3 separate regions of the Homo sapiens genome follow, and regions 1 and 3 are each linked to region 2. Evidence: fine-mapped expression QTL. A gene starts in region 2. Each other region holds a variant in brackets. All regions are shown on one strand. Distances are from middle to middle. Region 1 overlaps BASP1 (brain abundant membrane attached signal protein 1). Region 2 holds the start of BASP1 (brain abundant membrane attached signal protein 1). Region 3 holds the start of LINC02218 (long intergenic non-protein coding RNA 2218).

Region 1 (6,693 bases), 24 kb after region 2:
TGATAAGGCTATCTAATGAAGGACCCAAAGAACTCTCACTGAGCTCACCCAGAATGCTTTTCTGGATTAAAGCACAGACTGAGAACCTGTTCTTAACATTAGTGACTTCGGTATGGCTCATTTTGAAGAAAGAAAATTGCCTAAATCTATAGTTGAGCTTGCACACATTACAGGTCTCTGGAAATAAGATGCTTAAACAGGTTCTATAATCTGGTTCTTGCTAGGTGAGTGTCCCCTGACATTGCTTTTTTTTTTTTTTTTCCGTGATGGAGTCTCGCTCTGCCACTCAGGCTGTAGTGCAGTGGCTCACTGTAACCTCCACCTCTTGGGTTCAAGTGAATCTCCTGCCTCCACCTCCCGAGTAGCTGGGACTACAGGCATGCACCACCATGCCTGGCTAATTTTTGAATTTTTAGTAGAGACAGTGTTTCACCATGTTGGCCAGGCTTGTCTTGAATTCCTCACCTCAAGTGATCCACCCACGTCGGCCTCCCAAAGTGCTGGGATTACAGGCATGAGCCACTGTGTCCGGCCCCCTGACATTGCTTTCTAAAGTAAGATTACCTGTAGTTCTCAGTGTTCGCCAAGCATGTATGAAACACAACGTATGTTAAGAGGCTGTTTAATTACATAAATGCTTATTTGGGGGATTCTTGTTCTCAGTGGCCTTCTCTCTTTTGGATGGATATACACAGTTTGATTGGCACTCCTATTGACACTTTATTTGGTTTGTGACTTGTTTGTCTCGGTGCCTTTCTATTAATATATTTTTTCTATTTAAACTACCCTCTTTTTTTCAGTACAGCACTGGACATTTTCTTTGAAATCTTCCAGATTCATTTGGTTGTCTTCCTCATCTCAGCTGTCTTATGCAGGAAAAGTGGTCACTGTTCAGTCAATTCATTCTACGTAGCTGGCTATCTGAGTTTTTTTTTTATCGAAACCAAAATAAAACTTAAAAGAAACAGAAGAAGCTGAGTCTCCCTCCCCTCCCTTTCAACTAACACCTACTGATGTTTATCTTGGAAATAATTTGACGTCTATTTGATGAAACCTGTAGTTAAGTGTTAATGGAGACTAACGTCAAGCTTCAGAACAGTGAGGAGAAACCTTTAGTATTGTGTGTCTAGCATTTGATGCAAGTGCTCTGTGGAAACCATGGAAGCTGGGATAAAAATGCTCGCCTGATCCCCAGATAGTCTCATCTGAATGTACTGAGGCATCACCGCATTCATTCCAAATCTGAACCTGACCTACTTTTCCCCTTCATCTCCTGCCATCTCTTCCCTAGTTTGTCATCTTCTTTTCCAGCACCACGAATGGTTCATGCTTTCTGATAAATATCTGATGTATGGCATCAATTATATGACTATTTAAACATGACTCATAGTGAACTGTATTTAAATATTGATATGACTCCATGCGTTTTCAAAGAATGTGTGGAATGTTCTTTTTGAGTGTCAGTTATTAATCATCTGTTTTCCGTTCAACTTTGGTTATCTTCAGTAAATTTTAATATCTTTCCCTTCAAGAGGACTTCCCAGCTGTCTGATCAACGGGTAGGAAAGGACAGTTGGTTCAGTGCTTGCTCATGTTAGCCCTGTAAGAAGTCAGCTCAGTTTAGTTCATCCAATAGCTGGGGAATAAAACCACACAATTCCCTTCCTTACTTGATATCAATCAACACTTGACTAAATCTTACATCCTGTCTTCAGCTGTTTTTTTTTTCTTTTTTGAGATGGAGTCTCGCTCTGTCACCCAGGCTGGAGTGCAGTGGCATGATCTCAGCTCACTGCAACCTCTGCCTCCCGGGTTCAAGTGATTCTCCTGCCTCAGCCTCCTGAGTAGCTGGGACTACAGGTGCCCGCCACCATATCTGGCTAATTTTTTGTATTTTCAGTAGAGACGGGGTTTCACCATGTTAGCCAGGATGGTCTCGATCTCCTGACCTTGTGATCCGCCCGCCTCAGCCTCCCAAAGTGCGGGGATTACAGGTGTGAGCCACTGCACCCGGCCCAGCTCTTTCGTAAAGAAAGCCTTGGCAAATGTGGAAATTCTCCCTATTCACTACGGTAAATAATTCTTGAGGTTACTAAACTCAGTATCTAAATAAAACAGATCAGTGTGTTAGTACATGGAACAGAAGGCCATATTTTTGGTTATAACCGTTGACCCCACACTCACCCTGGGGTCTTGGTGTCAATGTCAGGATGTGTTTAAATACCCTAGGCTGTCAATCTTGTAATACAACTTTGGTTATCTTTGTTCTAGAGCCTTGCAAAGTAAAGCTGATCCTAGTTAGGACCCAGTTAGGAATTTGGATATATGTGTTGTATTTGCATGTGATACTGCCCTTCATTTGAAAACACAGGCTTAAATTAGTGAAGTAGAACTCTTTTAGTCCAGATTACCCCCAAAATCTGTGAATTTGTACTAATTCAAAATCCTCTTTGCTGGTAACCGTTGTAATGAGGTCTTTGGAAATTTTATCCTGGTAGCATGGAGGTGTTGCTTCTTTTCATTTGTCTAGTTTTGTAGTCAGAACTGTTTATAGAGATGTAATTTTAAAGTGACCCTATGCTATGGTTTGAATATATGTGTTCCACCAAAATTCCTACGTTGGAACCTAATGCCCAGTGTGATGGTATTAAGTAAGAGCTGGGGCCTTTTGGGAAATGTCGAGGTCATGATTATTCCACCTTCACTAATGGGATTAGTGCTCTTATAGAACATGTTGGGAAAAAAATAAAAATAAAGATAAATAAATAAATAAATAAATAAATAAATAAATAACAGGTTGGAGCCCAGGAGTTTGAAGCTGGGGTGAGCCGTGATCATGCCACTGCACTCCATCCTGGGCAACAGAGTGAGGCTCTGGCCGGGCATGGTGGCTCACGCCTGTAATCCCAGCACTTTGG[T/G]AGGCCGATGTAGGCAGATCACCTGAGGTCAGAAGTTTGAAACCAGCCTGGCCAACATGGTGAAATCCTGTCTCTACTGAAAAATACAAAAATTAGCTGGGCGTGGTGGCGGGCACCTGTGATTGCAGCTCCTCAGGAGGCTGAGGCAGGAGAATCACTTGAATCTGGGAGGCAGAGGTTGAAGTGAGCTGAGATTGCGCCATTGCACTTCAGCCTGGGTGACAGAGTGAGACTCCTCTCAATAAAATAAAGTAAAATAAAATAATAAAATAAAAAACAGAGTGAGGTTCTGACTCTTTAAAAAAAGAGAAATAATGTGCCCACTTCATCAGCACATATACTAAAATTGGAACCATATAGAGATGAACATGGCTGCTATGCAAGAATGACAGTGCAAATTTGTGAAGCATTCCATATATTTTGGAAAATAAAAAAGTTGAAGGGAGTGCCCTAGTCCCCTTTTGTCTTTGATCTTGGACTTCCCAACCTACAGAACTGTGAGAAGTAAGTATTGATTCTTTATAAATTACCCAATCTAAGGTATTTTGTTAGGGTACCTACTAAACAAAAAGATAAAACTCTTGTGATTTTGATCTTAAGTTGGAAACATAAAACCATCGTTACAGAGAAGGCAAAACTAGGCAAAGATTTATTTTTGCAATGGCATTTAAAAATATTTAATAGTTTCTTTTAATTATAACATTACAAAATAACACCTTGTAGTCTGGTGAGCACAGGCTTGCCTAGTGCTTAGCATGTGCCAGGCAGGCCACATTCTAAGCTTTACACAGATTGACATTTTCCTTTTTTTTTTTTTTTTCTTGAGGCCGAGTTTTGCTCTGTTGCCCAGGCTGGAGTGCAGTGATGTGATCTCGCCTCACTGCAACTCCCACCTCTCAGATTCAAGCGATTCTTGTGCCTCAGCCTCCTGAGTAGCTGGGATTATAGACATGTACCACCAGTCCCGGCTAATTTTTGTGTTTTTAGTAGAGATGGGGTTTCGCCATGTTGGCCAGGATGGTCTTGAACTCCAGGCCTCAAGTGATCTGCCTGCCTCAGCTTCCCAAAGTGTTGTGATTACAGGAGTGAACCACTGCGCCTGGCCCAAAGATTGACATTTTAAAATACAGCAGCTAGGTGGGGTGGATTCTATTATTATCCCATTGTACAAATGAAGAAACTGTGGCACAGAGAAATTAATAATAGGTTACGTAGCCAGTGTAACCCAGAACATCTTAGTTCATGTTGCATGTCTCTCATTTGCTGGAAGCATATCAGTCAACAAGAAAATTATTGTTTTGCTTCCAGTTTGAGTAATGTTCCTGTGACTTCTTTAAGTGCTGTATATTTGCTGCATTTGCTGGGAGTGAACGAGGCCCTGAAGCTTTCGTAGATCTGTGCAGGAACTGGAGTGAGCCAGTGTGTGCCACCATGGGTGTCCCTCGATGTTCTCTCCTGTCCCTTCAACTGTGCTCTGCAGGAGTCAGACCTGTGGGGACAGTTCACAGGAACAAAACAGAAGCTCCAACCAAGAGCTGCAGGATTTAAGGACAAGGCTGCAAAACAAGTACGTGGAGCTGGCACGCAAACTCAGGGCTTTCTGAAACACAAACTTCAGCATTTAATTAAATGGGGGAAGGAAGGAACTCTCAACCGAGATACTGAACTGCACTGTGTCTCTACAAAATGCGAGTGTCCCACATTTTAAGGGTGAATGGATATCTCTAAAAGAAAACACCTCTCTCATTCACGTCTATTCTGTATGCTTTCTTGATTGGCTGAGGAAGGGGTGAAATCATGCTCTCCTTTCATTCCCCTCCTTCGACTAGGAAGGCGTTCTTTGATGCACCATTAATAGTTTTAGCAATTACTCTCAACCATAGTGAATGTGTAACTCCTGTTTTCATTTAAATTTGATCAATGACTCAGTTGTTATTAAAATGCAAGAAATAGTAGAAGTTTTTGTATATATATACCTGTGATGAGTGCGGGTGAGAATGGTCCTGTGGTTTTATTTCTCTTTTTTGTTCGACTTTATTTGTTAGATCAGTTTCATGTTCACACGAAATTGAGTGGAAGGTACGGAGGTTTCCCATATAAGTCTTGCGCCGCCCCCCACCCCATGCATAGTTTCCCTCATTATCAACATCCCCCAGCAGAATACGTCTGTCACAATTGATAAACTTGCATTGACACATCATTGTCACCCAAAGTCCTTTGTTTACATTAGGGTTCCCTCTTGGTGTTGTACCTTCTGTGAGTTTGGACAAATTTATAATGACACGTATCTCCAATTAGAGTAGCATAATTTTATCTCTTTATAAATGCTCAAGTCAGGGCTTCTTATTTTAATTTAAGGGGGATTAAATGATCGTAAGTGCATTTGTTACATCATTGTGCTTATTAATAATCTGTTTAAAGTATCTGTAATGCTTTGTGTTATAACTTTAAACAACAGAAAATGATGTTATTTGTAACGGTACATCCTTGCTCTGCGTGCTAATGTCCTTGAGGAGTCGAAGTAAGTCTAGGAAAAAAAAAGTCAACTCAGTTTAAAAAAAAAAAAAGGTAATCGTAAGCATTTTTTTTTCCTTCTAAAAGGATTTCTTTGTGTTTGGGGGCAGGGAGGACATGTCTTGAAATAAGTGAACATGTGCTTGTAAAATGTTTTTTAAGTGTTGTCGTCCCTGTAAGTCTGTGCCTTTCTGAAAATCTGGGTATGAAACCAGATCATGTGTGTAAAGGGAAATGGAACATTCTGGAACACCTGTAGTCTGTTGCCCCCAGCAAGTTGACATGCTAACATGCTAGGTGACAAAAGGGCATCATGATAAAGCCACTGAGACTTAAATTCTTGCTTTTTTTTTTTTTTAAGAGGGAGTCTCATTCTGTCGCCCAGGCTGGAGTGCAGGGCCGCGATCTTGACTCACTGCAACCTCCACTTTCTGGGTTCAAGCAATTCTTGTGCCTTAACCCCCCGAGTAGCTGGGACTATGGGCGTGGTGCGTACCACCACGTCCAGCTGATTTTTGTATTTTTAGTAGAGACAGGGTTTCGCCACGTTGGCCAGGCTAGTCTCGAAGTCCTGACCTCAGATGATTTGCCTGCCTTGGCCTCCCAAAGTGCTGGGGTTACAGGCATGAGCCACCACGCCCGGCTCCCTCCAACCTTCTTAACTTCAGTTTCCGGTGTCTAACTTGACACTATTGATGTCTGCCTCTTGCTATGAATTAGCAAAAGGTGAGGATTGGCCAGGCACAGAGTAATGTCTCCATAAGGGTTGGCTGTTCCTGCCATTCTCCTGCCTGTTCTAATCTAGATCTCTGTTTCCTTTATAGCATTCACAACACATGGTCATTATTTTATTTGTGAATTTGTCTTACTTGTTTTTGGATTGTGTCTCACCATATGATCTTGTTGTTGGTGAACTTGTCTTATTTATGTGTGACTCTCACCATTTCCCTTCCTAGTCTGTCATGGAAGCTCTATGCCTCCAGACCCTGGGTCTGTCTCCCTAACACCCTGCACCTTGGTTCTCACCGAATGCTTGTCCACTGCCAGCAGAAAACAAAACACTGCTGTGTCCCTGCAAAGCACTGCAGCTCTTGCCAGAATGTTCATCGTGTGTGACTTTTCAAGTGCAATAAGTCACGGGTACTATGTGAAATTGGATAAAGATAATTTTTTTGCAAATATATCCTTACATTGTAAACTATCAGCTAGGGTTGAAGTTTTCTAATTGATATTTTAGGTTCTTAAATATTGGAAGATAACT
Region 2 (6,490 bases):
GCATGCGCTCTTAGAAAAAAAAAAAAAAAAAAGATCAGGTATTTTCCAACTGGGCAGCAACTTGATGCTCATTTAAACCTGGGTTTCTCAACCTTGCCATTATTGACATTTTGGCCCAGAATGACTCTCGTGGGGTTGGGTAGGGTTGGGGTAGGAAGGAAGACAGACGAATATATAGATTTCAATATTTTCCTTTGGTTAAAAAATTATAAATATATTTAAGAGAAAAAAAGCCGTACACTTTCATCTGTAATACTGTCTGGCCTTTTGCTTGCAATTTGCAGATAAGATTTTGTAAACAAATTGCAGCAAGTTGGTCCTCCACGGAAAACTTACCAGTAGAGCTGAATTTACTTTCAAATTCTCTAAATGGGTTTCTGAGGGTTTGGGTTAATGCAGTGGCCTTGAACAGGAACTATCCAGAAAGATGTCAAGCAAAGGTGGCTAGAGTCACACTCGGGTGACACTACTGTCACCATGCTTCTGCTTCATTCTTGTTCTACATCTTTTATTTGAGATTTTAATCCTCTTTTTACTATTTAAGAGGAAAGGATGGGGAACTGAGAAAGACGCTAGGCCTTGGTGGGTGATGTGGGAGGTGGGGAGAGGGAAGATAAGAGTGAGGTTTTGAGGCTTGATGAGGTCTGTATAATTATCTATTGTAGGTGTCTTAGTTGACACAATAGATATGATTTGAAAAGCTGAAGGCACATGGAAATTTTTGTAAACTGACTAGTAATTTAAATGACAATGAGACCATTATATTGCAAGCAAAGACAAATCTTTTAGAAAAAAATTAGTAATCACGAATAATTTATCTTTTGGATAATGATTTTCATAATGCAGGTTATGCTTCCCTGGAGCAAGTTATGCAGGCAATTAAAAATGACAATGGAATTCAGTTTATAACCGATGAAATCCAGCTTTGTTTGTCAAAAACAAATGCATTCATTCCATTTGGAGAGTAAAACAGTCTTTTTTTCATGAGCATAATGGTGAAAGCTAATTAAATTTATCATAAATTACACCCTTAATATTTGTTCTCAAGATCATTAGTCTATAATGTAAACAGACACATTCACAATAGTTAATGTTAACAGTTTTCTAAAATTCAGAACTTTAAAGGTTTATTCATTTATTCCCTAAGCATCAGTTTAAAAAAATGTTTTAAAGAGCATACACATTAAAAAGTATGATATTAGATGAACAACTAAAAATTAGACTAAAAACATCGCCAAATTGGATTTTATATAGTAATATTGTTACATTGAGAGGTAACATTTTGGCAACCATTTGCTGCAAACCTACAAATTCTGTAAAAGCTTCTAAAGATTAATAGCACTATCAGTCAGTTGCATCATTATCTCATTGAAAATGAATTCTCACCCTCCTTTAAAAAAATTTAAAAAAATGTTTTAAGAGAACAACTAAATCTGATGGAAGACAAAATTAAGGAGACCTGCAGTTCTCCTTGTTGGTGTAAGCTTTTGCCTCCGGTTTCTATGGTAACCCGTGATCTGTATTCCAATCACACCTTTGAAAGGTTTGTTTTCTCCATCATGAAAATTTAGCTGGAAGCACTGAAGGTACTGAACATTAATTTTTATGTTGTCTTTTTTTTTTGGAAAAATTGGAAAAAGAGAATAGAGAAGGAAGATAACACCCACAGGCTTAGACTGCAAATACAATGAGGAAATGTATTTGCTAATTTTTAGATGATTTACATGCCTGGAAGATCACAAGGATAAAAACCCTGAATGCTAAATGAACAAGTAGGCAGCTCCTCTAACAAACTCAGGAAATGTCTTGAGCAGAACATTGCAAATATTCATCTAATTCGATAGGGTAAAAACCTAGAGACTTGCTCATAGAGGTTGAAAGAAAATGTAGCTCAGTGGTTTTCAGCCTGGAGTGATTTTGCCTCCCAGGAGACATTTGGCGATATCTGGGGACATTTTTGGTTGTCACAACTGGTGCTGGTGCTGGTGGTGTGTGTGGAGGGTGGTACTGGCTGCTAGTAGAGGCCAGCAATGAATGCCAGACATCCTACAGTGCATAGGACAGCCTTCCACAACAAAGAAATATCTGGCCCCAAAAGGAGGTGGGAAAACCTGCATCCTCCATTTAGCTTTATAGATGGTGTACTGGTGTGAGGGAAATAAATATTCAAAAGAATAAAATGCTTTAGAAGCAACCTCATTTGTAATTTGCTTCCCTGGTATTTTACTACACTAACTTTTTATTTCACTTTAAATGGCAGAAAGAGAAACAGGAAAAAACAAACAGTTCCCGCTTTTTTCTTACCTTTGGTTTAAATTTGAACATTTCCAGCTGGCATGCATTAATCTAATTTGGTGCTGCCTCCTATGACCTGTAAATGTGTACAGTAGGGTCGTCAAGTGTTTCCACTGCAAAATCGCTAGTGCAGTTGAGTAAATATTGCCACTTTGCTTAATTCAAATATGTACGTTAAAGTTACGATAAGTTAATTTTCCTGTTAAGTGAAAATGCACTTACCTTTACCCAGTTGAATACAGATGTACTTGCCTTTGACGTCTGCCTCCCTAAGTATGGTTACAGTTTGTCACTCCGGTTCTGGAGGGCCACCCTGTCCCTGAATTCACGCCCAGGTCCTGAGGGCAGAACCATCCTGAGGACAACCTGCAGCTCCATCGATTTTTTCTTGGCTGGGACGCAGGCGAGCATGAAAGCGATCCAAACACAGCCAGAGGGCGCCAAAATGCCGCAAATAAAAGTTCCAAAGGCGTCAACTGGCTTTTGCGGGAAGGTAAAATTGGCTTTTGTGTAATCAAAGAGCTACCGTTGTCAACGATGTCACGTTACGTTATTTTTGTATGTCCCTCTTGCCAACAGGTAAGCAAAGTGAACGCATCTTCCTACCCCGGTGGCTATTCTGTGTCCCGGTGCTAAACCAAGTGTCCGCCCCCTTAGGGCACCCGGACAAGCCGCGGTTGGCCCTAGCTTTGACTCGAGCGCTCGCAAGCAGCAGCGTGCGGGCTGCCTCGGCCAACCCCGTCTTCTCAATATTGGTGGCCTCCATTAAAGCACAGACATCAAAAACATCGACGGCCCCTTTCCCCTCTTCTCTTCCCTCCTTCCTCTCCCAAGTTCCGAGAGCATCCTCCGAGGGGCGACGTCTCTCGCCCCACCAGCTGGACCTCGGCGACCGCGCCTCCCCCGAAGCTGCAGCCTTCGGGGCTGAGCCCCGCGGGTGCGGGTGCAGGTGCGGAGCCGCCCAAGGTGCGCAACTCGTTTGCAGCGGCGCAGCCCAGACGCGCCTGCAGCTGGGGCTCACCCCAACCTCGCTGCCAGCCGAGGTAGCGGAATCGTAGTCGACGTCGGGAGCGGGCTGGACTGGGGTCTGAGAAGGGTAGCTGGTGCCAGGGGGTGTCATTCATCACCTCGAGGCAGCTCCCTAAGTCTGAGCGAGAGCCCGAGCACTTCTTATCCAACGGTTCCAAATAAATGAGGGGGAGAGAGAGAGAGAGAGTGAGAGAGAGAGAGAGAGAGAGAGAGTGAGTGAGAGAGTGAGAGAGTGGGAGAAGTCCACGGACAGCCCAGGCGGCGCGGCGGGGGAAGGGGGACGCAGGAATGGAGGAGAGGAGAGGGGAGGCGGAGGGGGGATCTGAATAGAGGGCATTTAGGAAACGTTGGCGGGGCACAGAGTTGGGAGGTGGGGGGAAGGGAGGAACCAGGATGGCGGATAGGAGAGAAATGGGGGTGACTGTGCTGGAGGGGAGGGGAGGTGGGGGCCCAGAGCTGGGGGGAGTCAAGGGGAGGCGGGCGTGTCCAGGCTGGAGGGGAGAGGGGAGGGTCTGCGCCGGAGGAGGGGAGGGGAGCAGAGGGAGTGCAGGGGGTGGGGAGATGGAGCTGGAGGGGGTGGAGGGGAGACGGGCGGGGCGCCGGGCTGGAGGGAGGGGAGAGAGGCGGGCGGGGAGCGCGGGAGGAGGGAGGCTGGGCGGGCGGACGCGCGGGGGGAGGGCACTGGGCAGGAAGGGGAGGGGGAGCGAGCGCGAGAAATGCAGAGGCTGCAGCGGCGGCGGCGGCGGCAGTAGCGGCAGCGGCGACGACGGCGGCGGCAGCGCTCCAACTGGCTCCTCGCTCCGGGCTCCGCCGTCGAGCCGGGAGAGAGCCTCCGCCAGCGGCCAGGCACCAGCCAGACGACGCCAGCGACCCCGGCCTCTCGGCGGCACCGCGCTAACTCAGGGGCTGCATAGGCACCCAGAGCCGGTAAGGAGGCGCGCCCGGTGGCCCCGCGCCGCCGCGGACCCGGGGGCCTCCGTCCCCCACCGCGCCGCGCCCCGCCCCGCAGCCCCCGGGCTCTCCCTTCATGCAGCGGGCAGCAGGGATGTGGGCCCGGATTGGACGGCAAGGGCCTGGGGTCCCTCTGTGAGGGCTCCGTCGCACTTCGGGGATCCCGGGTGATGGGGGGCCCAGAAGTGGGAGGCTTCAGCCGCTCGCATGGTGGAGGGGTGAGGGGGGCGGCGAGGTTGGTAAACGGAGCTGGGGGGAGGGGGCTGTCGGGGAGAGGAGCTGCGGGTGACGGGAGGAATTGCCGAATGCGAAACCCCCTCAGTGCGTTGAGTCCCGGGGAGACGGTTCTGTGGGCTGAAGGGAGCGCTTCCGTCATCGGAGCCCTTACCAGCCTGGGAGAAAGCGCTCGGGGCGAGGGGCGCAGCAGCCAAAGATGGAGGGTGGGGGTGGGGTGGGGCGGGAGTCCGGGGAGAAAGAAGATGGGGAATCTGGCCCGATCAGAAGGAAGTGGGTGGCTTTTTGCTTTGGCAAACGGGTTTTCTCGACCCATGGGACTCCTGGATCTTGGTTCTGGGGCCAAGGAATACGAGGTTCACACGGCGACGTGCACTCAGAAGCACCTCCCGAGCAGATCGGAGCCCCAGCCTCGTCAGTGGCGGAATTGCCTTCCTACGAACCCGTGGGCTGCCTCGGAGCAGTTTGTTTTTTCGAGCCTTTGGTTCCAAGAATGCGCCAGGCGCCTCCGCCCTGGGTCCCGGCCCCGGCCCGGGCCCGGGGGGTGTGGGCTTGAACCTGACAGCGCGCGGCCCTAACTGGGCTCAGCCCCGCTGGGAGCGTAGGGTTGGGGTTGAGCAGCTTTTGCCCAAAGCGCTAAAGCTGAAACCCGGCGCCCGGTTCCTGCTCCCCCCGCCCCCGTCCCCCCTCCATTTCCAGAAAAATAAAAATTGCGGAATCCTGGATCCGATCGCACGCACAATGCGCGGCTGCAAACCGCATTCTTTTCATGAATATTCATCGAACGCTTGGCCAGGCTCCTTATCTGCGTCCCCAGAGACATTTCCGCCTTGAAACGAACTCGGTGGACAGCCCTTGCCCATGTAATTCTCACTCTGCTGAAATTAGCACAGCACACATGGGTGCATTTTTTAGGACCTTGTACAGGTTGACAACACCTCTGTCTCCCCCGCGGCCACTCGCACTGTGGGGCGGGCTAAAACCCAACACTAGCGTCGAAATGGCCTTCTGCTATAGGGTTGTGGACCGACCCCCCACCCCCACCTCCCGGGATTACAGCCCGGGCCAACAGACCCCCAGTATACTGCAGGCAAAATGAATGAATCGGGACTGTAATTACCTATTCCTTTGTCTTGGCCTCGCGCATGCGCCGGAGAGCAGGGTGTGGAGGGCCCGGCAGCCCCATCCCATCTCCATCATCCAGCCACCCACTCCCCTCCCGAGCCGAGGAACAAAGGCGTTTGCCCTAAATGTTGCGGGAAACCCTTGGACACCAATGACAGTTTTTCCCGCCTGTGTGTGTGTTTCTTCTTTTCCAGGCTGTCTCTCATCTTTTGCTTTCTTGCTGATTTCAATTGACCAAAATTAAGATTTGCCTTGATGAGGATGAAGGCAAATTGTGGATTAAATATTTTGTACCCGCACACTGTTATTTTCCTTTCTAGTACTGTTCATTGTTCTTTTTCCTGTAACATATCTTACTGCAGTGAGGGTGGCTTTCTTAATTTGCATCAATTAACCGTTTGACAGATCTTTTTTGGTCATTTGATTAAGGGAAGGTGGCCTCAAAACTGTCAGTGGGCGTTGCCTCCAGTGACACCACCTGGGGAAAATTAAGACATCTTGGCGTTTATTCGAACAAGATGGCCTACAAAAACCGGAGAGAAGAAAACGATTACCTTGTCGGGATCCTAACCCTTTCTGTTTTCTCTGGACTCCGAACTCATTGTTTCATTAAGGATTCCAAAAGGCGAATGGCGTCCAGATGGAAATCTGATGGGGGCAGAAAGAAGGCAGTCGTTGGGGTGAAGCTGGTTGATTAGGTTCGCAATGATTCCTTTTTCCCCATTACCTAACAGAAGCCATGATATACCTTTGATGGCTGATTTTCTTTCAGATGATCTATTTTCCAGGTTATGGCCATTTAGATTTATTTTCAGGTAGTTTGTTTTTACCACACAAAAAGGGACTTATTGTGTAT
Region 3 (6,693 bases), 230 kb after region 2:
TTATGTTGTTTGTATGTTTCACCTGGTAATTGATCACAATCTCTTGCCTCTTTTTATGTTAGTAATATGTGACTGTATGCCAGATATTGTGGACAAAGCACATGTCAAAGCTCTGTATGATGCTACTTCGACCAGATAGGAATCTGTGCTTTCTCTGTGGGGCAGATAAGGTGAGGAGGTGATCACCCCAATCCAAGAGGCTGAACTAGGTCAAGACTGGGTTGACATTTTAGTAAAATCCTCTCCACTTCTAGCTATGTTTTTATTCCTCAGGCCTGTCTCTTCCACACTGTTGATTGACAGCTCTGAAAGAAAGTGGAAGTTTCGGGCTGTGTAGTATCCTGCCGTATGCTCCATCCAAATTTGATGAGAATCTTGGGGAGACCAGCCACCTTCTGAGCAGACTCCTTTCCTCCAGTGGAACTTTTCCTCCCAATTATTATGGGACTTCTGAAGATTTTAACTTACTTTGCAGAAACTCCTAACCTTTTACTCAGCCTCAATTTAGCAAGGGTACTATGAGGAAAATTGGCAAGGCATTTGGGGATACTTTTGTTTCCAAATTGTTGTGGTTGCTTCTATGAATGCCACAAGCTTTGCTGGCTTCTCTTTCCTTCCTACAGTGCTTCTGCATGAACCAGATCTGATCTGTGTTTCAAATCAGCAAACATCCCAAGAAAGAAAATAGCCTGTGAAAGGTAGCTAATCTTGGCAAAACACTCTGCTCTCTGGAATTTTTGTTCTTTTAATTCTTTTTGTTTCCATAATTCACTGATCTCTTTATATGGATTTTTTTTGCAATTAATTTGTCGTTTTTAGTTAGTCTAACAGGATTGTATTCTCCTGCAACTAACGGCATTCTATTTATAACCACAAGTCCCCTTAGGGTCAACTTTTAAGAAGCCTTGGGCAGCTATGTTCTTCCAACCTAACAGTCCATAAGATCTTCCCCTATTTTTCCAGAAGCTTCAGATGAGACTATCACAAAGAAAAGTATGGACATATGTGACAAATAGAGATTACAAATTAAATTCTTACTGTCCAACATGAAAAACTTGACTGTCCTTTTTTTCTGTGTGTCCAGATATACAGGGAGTCCACGGAGCCTCCCCTGCAAGCATCAGTACAGAAGTCGATGATAATCTGGATGCAAGCCCAGGAGTGTGGAGTCCACTGACTCAGAAGACCTGCATCTAAGGAATTGGCTGTTCTTATCCTTAAGAATGATGACTGTGTTTCCAATTCCAGTAGACCCTTTGATGCGTTCTGAATAAATATTCCTTTTGGAATTGAACTTCTAGAGCCCTTAACTTTGGCCCACTCTAGTTTTCTGTCTGTTTTTTTTTTTTTTAATATTTTTTTTTTGTAAAGATAAGGTCTTGCTTTGTTGCCCAGGCTGGTCTTGAATTCCTGGACTCAAGCAATCCACCTGCCTTGGCCTCCCAAAGTGCTGGGATTATAGGTGTGAACCATTGTGTCCGATCGCTCTCTGGTTTTTCTAATATCATGATCCCAACTCTGTTCTTTATGTAAATTTCCCTGATCACATGGTTGTATCTTGGCATTTCAAAATCCTTGACAGACTTTGTTTTGTTTGAATTTTACAATGAACTTACATGACTAGGCACGGTCCCCAGTTCAGTTTTATAGACAAGGATTCTGTAGGTCAAGAAGTGAAACACAACCAATAACAGCAGGTGACAGGATTTAAACCTGGGTCACTTTACTTATTTTTTTCTACTCTATCATTATGTGAATCTATCCTACCTCTGCAATGACAGATGGCCCTAGAGCAAGAACACTTCCTTACATCTGGTATACAGTCAAAAAGTAAAAATTCCACACAAATAAATATGGAAAGAATTTTTACCTGCTCCTATAGCTTCCTTTCAGGGACCTGGCACCCACAAATGTTGGGTAACAGAAAGAGGACTTATGTAACTTAACTCAAAGCAGAAAAGTTACAGAGACTGTCTTAGCATAATAGAGCATGGAGTGGTCATGCTTGGATGTGCAAACTGTCTGATAGTCTTGCACATGGCTTGACCCCGAATTACACTAGTGGGGCAAGTTGCCTGGGGCAAAGCAAACTTATTGGACCCAAAGCTCTCATTTGAGAATTTTGTTGACTAAAAGTTATAAAATATCAGCAATTTCATATGGTTCAGCCTAATATTTTATCACTCTTCCTTTTTCTATTCTAAAACAATAATTTTTAATAACGTAAGCTATACACATACATGCTTTAAACATACAACACCCTGACTATCATATAGTGGATATTTCAAGAAGTAAATGTTCAGCATGTCTTCACCCCCACTTGAAGACATAATGTATGTATTAGGCTGTTCTGGCATTGCTATAAAGAAATACCTGAGACTGTGTAATTTATAAGAAAGGAGCTTTAATTGGCTCACGGTTCTGCAGGCTGTACAGGAAACATATTGGGTCTACTTCTGTGGAGGCTTCAGGGAACTTTGACTCATGGTGGAAGGTGAAATGAGAGCAGGCACCTCATGTGACTGAAGCAGGAGCAAGAAAGAGAGAGCGAGCAAGGTGCCACACACTCTTAAACAACCAGAACTCTCTCTTGAGAATTCACTCACTGTCTTGCCGTCAGCACCAAAGGGATGGTCCTAAACCATTCATGAGAAATCCTCCTCCATGATCCAATCACCTCTCACCAGGCCCTACCCCCAACACTGGGATTACAATTCAACGTGAGATTTGGGCCTGGACACAGATCCAAACCCTATCAATATATTAGCCAGATACTTGCAGCTGTATGAAGAATACCCTGGTTACCCAGCTACAAATGCAGATGTTATTGATAAGGGAGGGGGGCAGGGAAGTGCTGGGAGGAGAAAGCAGGTCTCTGGCGAGGGCTTCACCCCGGTGCCTGTGCCCACAGACCTAGGTAAGGGCAGGCACTCCTGCCTTTGCGCCCAAATGTTGCATTTCCCAAGACCACCCTGGCCCACCACGCCCCCATCCTGTGCCTATAAAAACCCCGAAACACTAGTGGGCACTCACACAAGCGGCTGGACGTCCAGAGGACGTCAACAAGAGCACGCCGACAGGCAGACCCTGGCAGGCCATCGACTGGCGGAAGGACATGGAGTTTGGCTGCGTGGTTGGAGGAGAGCCAGGCCGCTAGGTGGCCTGACTCCAGGAAACTACACCTTCCCACTCCATCTCCCTTCTGTCTCCCCTGTCTGCTCACAGCTACTTCCTCTCAATAAAACCTTGAACTCATTCTCCAAGCCCACGTGTGATCTGATTCTTCCGGTACACCAAGGCAAGGACCCTGGGATACAGAAAGTCCTCTGTCCTTGAGATAAGCCAGGGGGTCTAATTGAGCTGACTAACACAAGTCGCCTACAGATGGCAAAACTAAAAGAGCACCCTGTAACACACGTGTGCCCACTGGGGCTTCAGCTGTAAACATTCACCCCTAGACACTGCTCTTGGGTTGGAGCCCCACAAC[C/T]CAGCCGTCCGCATGCTCCCCTAGAGGTTTGAGCAGTGGGGCACGGAAGAAGCGAGCCACTCCTCCTGTTGCACACCCTGCGGGTGGCGCAAGGGAACGTTTCCTGTTTCATCATCAGGGATATTGTATCGGTGTCTTAAATAACACTAGCATTTTGACATATTTGGAGCTGCTACTGGGCCAGCTCTGTTTCCAGGCCTGCCTTTCAATCTTTTCCTTGCTTCTGGCATGAGTTACCATCTCTTTTAAGAAATTGGTTATGCATTTGAAAATACACGTAGCTATACATACTTTAAACATATCATTTAGCAAGGATGCTCCTTATCGGACCGTTGCTGGGAACAGAGAACACGACAGTTCCAGGTGAGCGAAATAGTGTGATCTCATACATGATGAAAGCTAAGCAGGCAACAGCTTTTCCGTAAGCAAGCATTTCAAAATGTATTTGTAGAAAGGCAGTAAAAGAATAAGATGCAAATCAAGCTATTTTTAAACCATCGTTTTCAGGGCCAAGGAAGAAATTATGAGAATGAATTTTTTAAAAAAAGATTATAAGGTCTTTAGTGGTGTTTTTAGTTGAAGTAATTTAGAGATGATTAGGTATTGCTATTTTTTATTCAATTCTTTACAACAAAAGCTTACAGAAATAGAAAGCTTTGCCATTTCTTTTCCCCACAACTTTAAAAAGTAAAGAGTGAGTGTTGGGTCACAATAATCTTTCTTTTTTAGTCTCCTTTTTGTGCAAATTCATCCACCATCAAATTACATTGTACTCCTTCCTCCTCTGTGACTACCTGTGGAAGAATGTTTATATAAATAAACCCAAAGGCCTGTCTTTTTGTCTGTTGCTCTGAGTAAGTGGTGCAAAATAGATGCCTTAGTCTGGTGATTTGATTTAATACAAATGGACCTTGTTAGAACACTTCTTTACACCTGAGATATTGGGAGATTTACTTGTAACCTTCCTTGCTACGTGAACAGCAGTAGTATTTGCTGTTTCTAAGATGTGTTGTAGTTTGAAAGATTTTGTTTGTATCATGCCAAAGTGACTGCATTAAGAAGTTCCTAGTTGACTGATTAAAACAAAACAAAACAAAACTCCTTTAATCATTCAGCTGTTTGACCTATGCTAGTGTATAGGTGCTATACACAATTATATATTTTGATGCTTTCTGTTTTATTATGTGGCAGTGTGTAGTCCCAGTATTTATGCTAATTATATCGTTCTTTGGAATCCAGTTTTTCTTTTTGTAAATTTGGATTAAAGTCTATCATGGCTCCTTTCAAAGAGAGCACTAAATGTAAATGGAGGGTTCTTTGATACCATTAGAGAGATGGGACTGAGATCTCAAAGAAATAGGCTGCACTGGCTCTGGGGTGAATGGGTCCTATGACTTGTAGGGCTTCAGAGTAGGACACACAACTCTGGGGCTAAAGCTCAGGACATTGGCCATGCAGTTGAACATTTCTGCCCGTTCTTTCCTGGTCCTGCCCTGTGCAATTTCCAGCTTCTGTAAATACATATTGAAGGTATGTATACATAGCAAAGGTGTGCCAAAGTGTACAGTTGCTCAGATTATTTGCACACCTTGGTTTGGCCCTGGCCAGTTGAAGGAGTCATGAGGAAATACCTTGCTGCGATGACTTCTGTCATTCATTTCTCTGTGTATATTGGTACTAATTGATTTTTTTTGGCAGAGTTTAAAGTACTTTTGAACTTTTCCCCTTTCTTCTCTCCTCTGCTTCTTTTTCCAGACTGTTTCCAAGATTGGATGAAGAGATTCAATTGACAATGCTGTGAAGAGAGGGATTTGGAGCTTGTTGGGGGAGGTAGTGTTGACTTCCTTGTGCAATCTAGGATTGAGTGGGGGATGCAGTTGGAAGGCAAGAGAAGTAAGACTCCTCCATCTTCCTGGTCCAGAGAAATTATGCTGGATCCCCCTACCCTTAATGAGAAAGGAGGTGTTTGTGTTTCCAGCATCTATGAGATCTGATTGCTAATGTAGCTACCTTTAAAGAATTCTGCTATTTACAATAAAAGTGAGATCTCCCTCCTCCATCCTGTGTTACACAGCCTGGGATTGCACCGTTGTTCCTGGCACCTTTGCATTGCAGGAGCCTGCCTTTGACTTTCTTTCCTCTCCACACATCTTCTATTCCTGCTGCTTCTCTTTTCAGAAAGTGCTGAGCTTCTAGGCTAGTGTCCCTCTCAACGGATGAATATTCAGCAGAGAATGGAGAGCTTTCAACCGTAAGAATCAGGATGTGGCTGTTTATAAAGTTATTGCATTTTTTTGAAGAGTGGCTGCAATTAGTTTTGGTGTTAGGCAGCAAAAACCCCAAAATGTTCTTTCTGATTTCATGTTGCTTGCATAATACAGATACCCATTTACTGGAAGAAATCTTCATGGGTAAGTGTATGAGTGTGTATGCATAAGTATGTGTATGTGTGTGTGTGACTCCACATATATTCCTAGAGTGCCTTCTATGTGCCAGGCATGGTGTTAGTTGACATATGTAATTGAGAGTAAAACAGTCATGATCTCTGCTCTTAACCAATTTACAATCTAGGATAAAATAGACCTTCCATGTTCAAATCCACAATGACATTAATTGCAATATGATCATTGTTGTGCTTGAATAATAGCTAAGAAAAGCACAAAGAACTTACAAGGTGGCTTAACAGAAGAACATCATCTAGCTTAGAAGTCTGGATAGCCCCTTTCTAAGAAAGCGGTACGAGTAAGGATGAATAGGAATAGGCCAGATAAAATACGAAGCCAGGAGTTGGAGGTGGACACGGGGGAGGGAGGTGACATTGTACTGATGGAGAGATGTGGAGAGCTGAGGAGGCTGATGAATGTAGAGAAAGTTGAAGTGTCACTGGATTGCAGTTCTTGATAGGTAGAAGTGTTGTATGAGGGGACGAAAACAAGGCCATTGGAAAGGGAAGTTGAAGATGGTGGTGGTGGTGTTTGTGAAGGTATTTATATTATTGCAGAATTATCTGAAGTGCAGTTTCCAATGTTAACCAAATTCATGGTGTGACTGTGGAAGTTGGTGCTTGAGGTGAATGATGACAACTATCAGTGGGTATCAGGGTAAGGAACTGCTGGGCAAGGTGTTGATGGTGCATCCAAGTGATGTTAAATCTGCTTAGCATGATGGTAGGGTTGGGTGAAAAGGAGACTATGAGTTGAGTGCTA

The links. PIP is the estimated chance that this variant, and not a neighbour inherited with it, causes the effect. A credible set is the group of variants that fine-mapping cannot tell apart.
Region 1: its variant is the best candidate, but not a certain one, in a credible set for the expression of BASP1 in monocytes (TOPMed, PIP 0.57).
Region 3: its variant is the best candidate, but not a certain one, in a credible set for the expression of BASP1 in whole blood (INTERVAL, PIP 0.72).

What each region holds. Positions count from the first base shown.
Region 1 is chr5:17,237,377-17,244,069 of GRCh38, forward strand. All of the region lies in intron 1 of BASP1 (brain abundant membrane attached signal protein 1), which reads left to right. It also overlaps the pseudogene RNU6-1003P. Among named protein-coding and RNA genes, the nearest start is that of BASP1, 23 kb to the left of the region's middle. The variant T/G (reference allele first, on the strand shown) is at 2,919.
Region 2 is chr5:17,213,560-17,220,049 of GRCh38, forward strand. BASP1 (brain abundant membrane attached signal protein 1) reads left to right here and starts at 4,072. Exons shown (of 2, transcript NM_006317.5): 1 at 4,072-4,251. It overlaps BASP1-AS1 (BASP1 antisense RNA 1), which reads right to left and starts at 3,863. Exons shown (of 3, transcript NR_027253.1): 1 at 2,518-3,863. RefSeq lists silencers at 3,868-4,347, 4,838-5,157 and an enhancer at 5,192-5,972.
Region 3 is chr5:17,440,385-17,447,077 of GRCh38, forward strand. It overlaps LINC02217 (long intergenic non-protein coding RNA 2217), which reads left to right. Exons shown (of 2, transcript NR_134275.1): 2 at 1,085-1,310. It overlaps LINC02218 (long intergenic non-protein coding RNA 2218), which reads left to right and starts at 3,626. Exons shown (of 3, transcript NR_134270.1): 1 at 3,626-3,850. The variant C/T (reference allele first, on the strand shown) is at 3,488.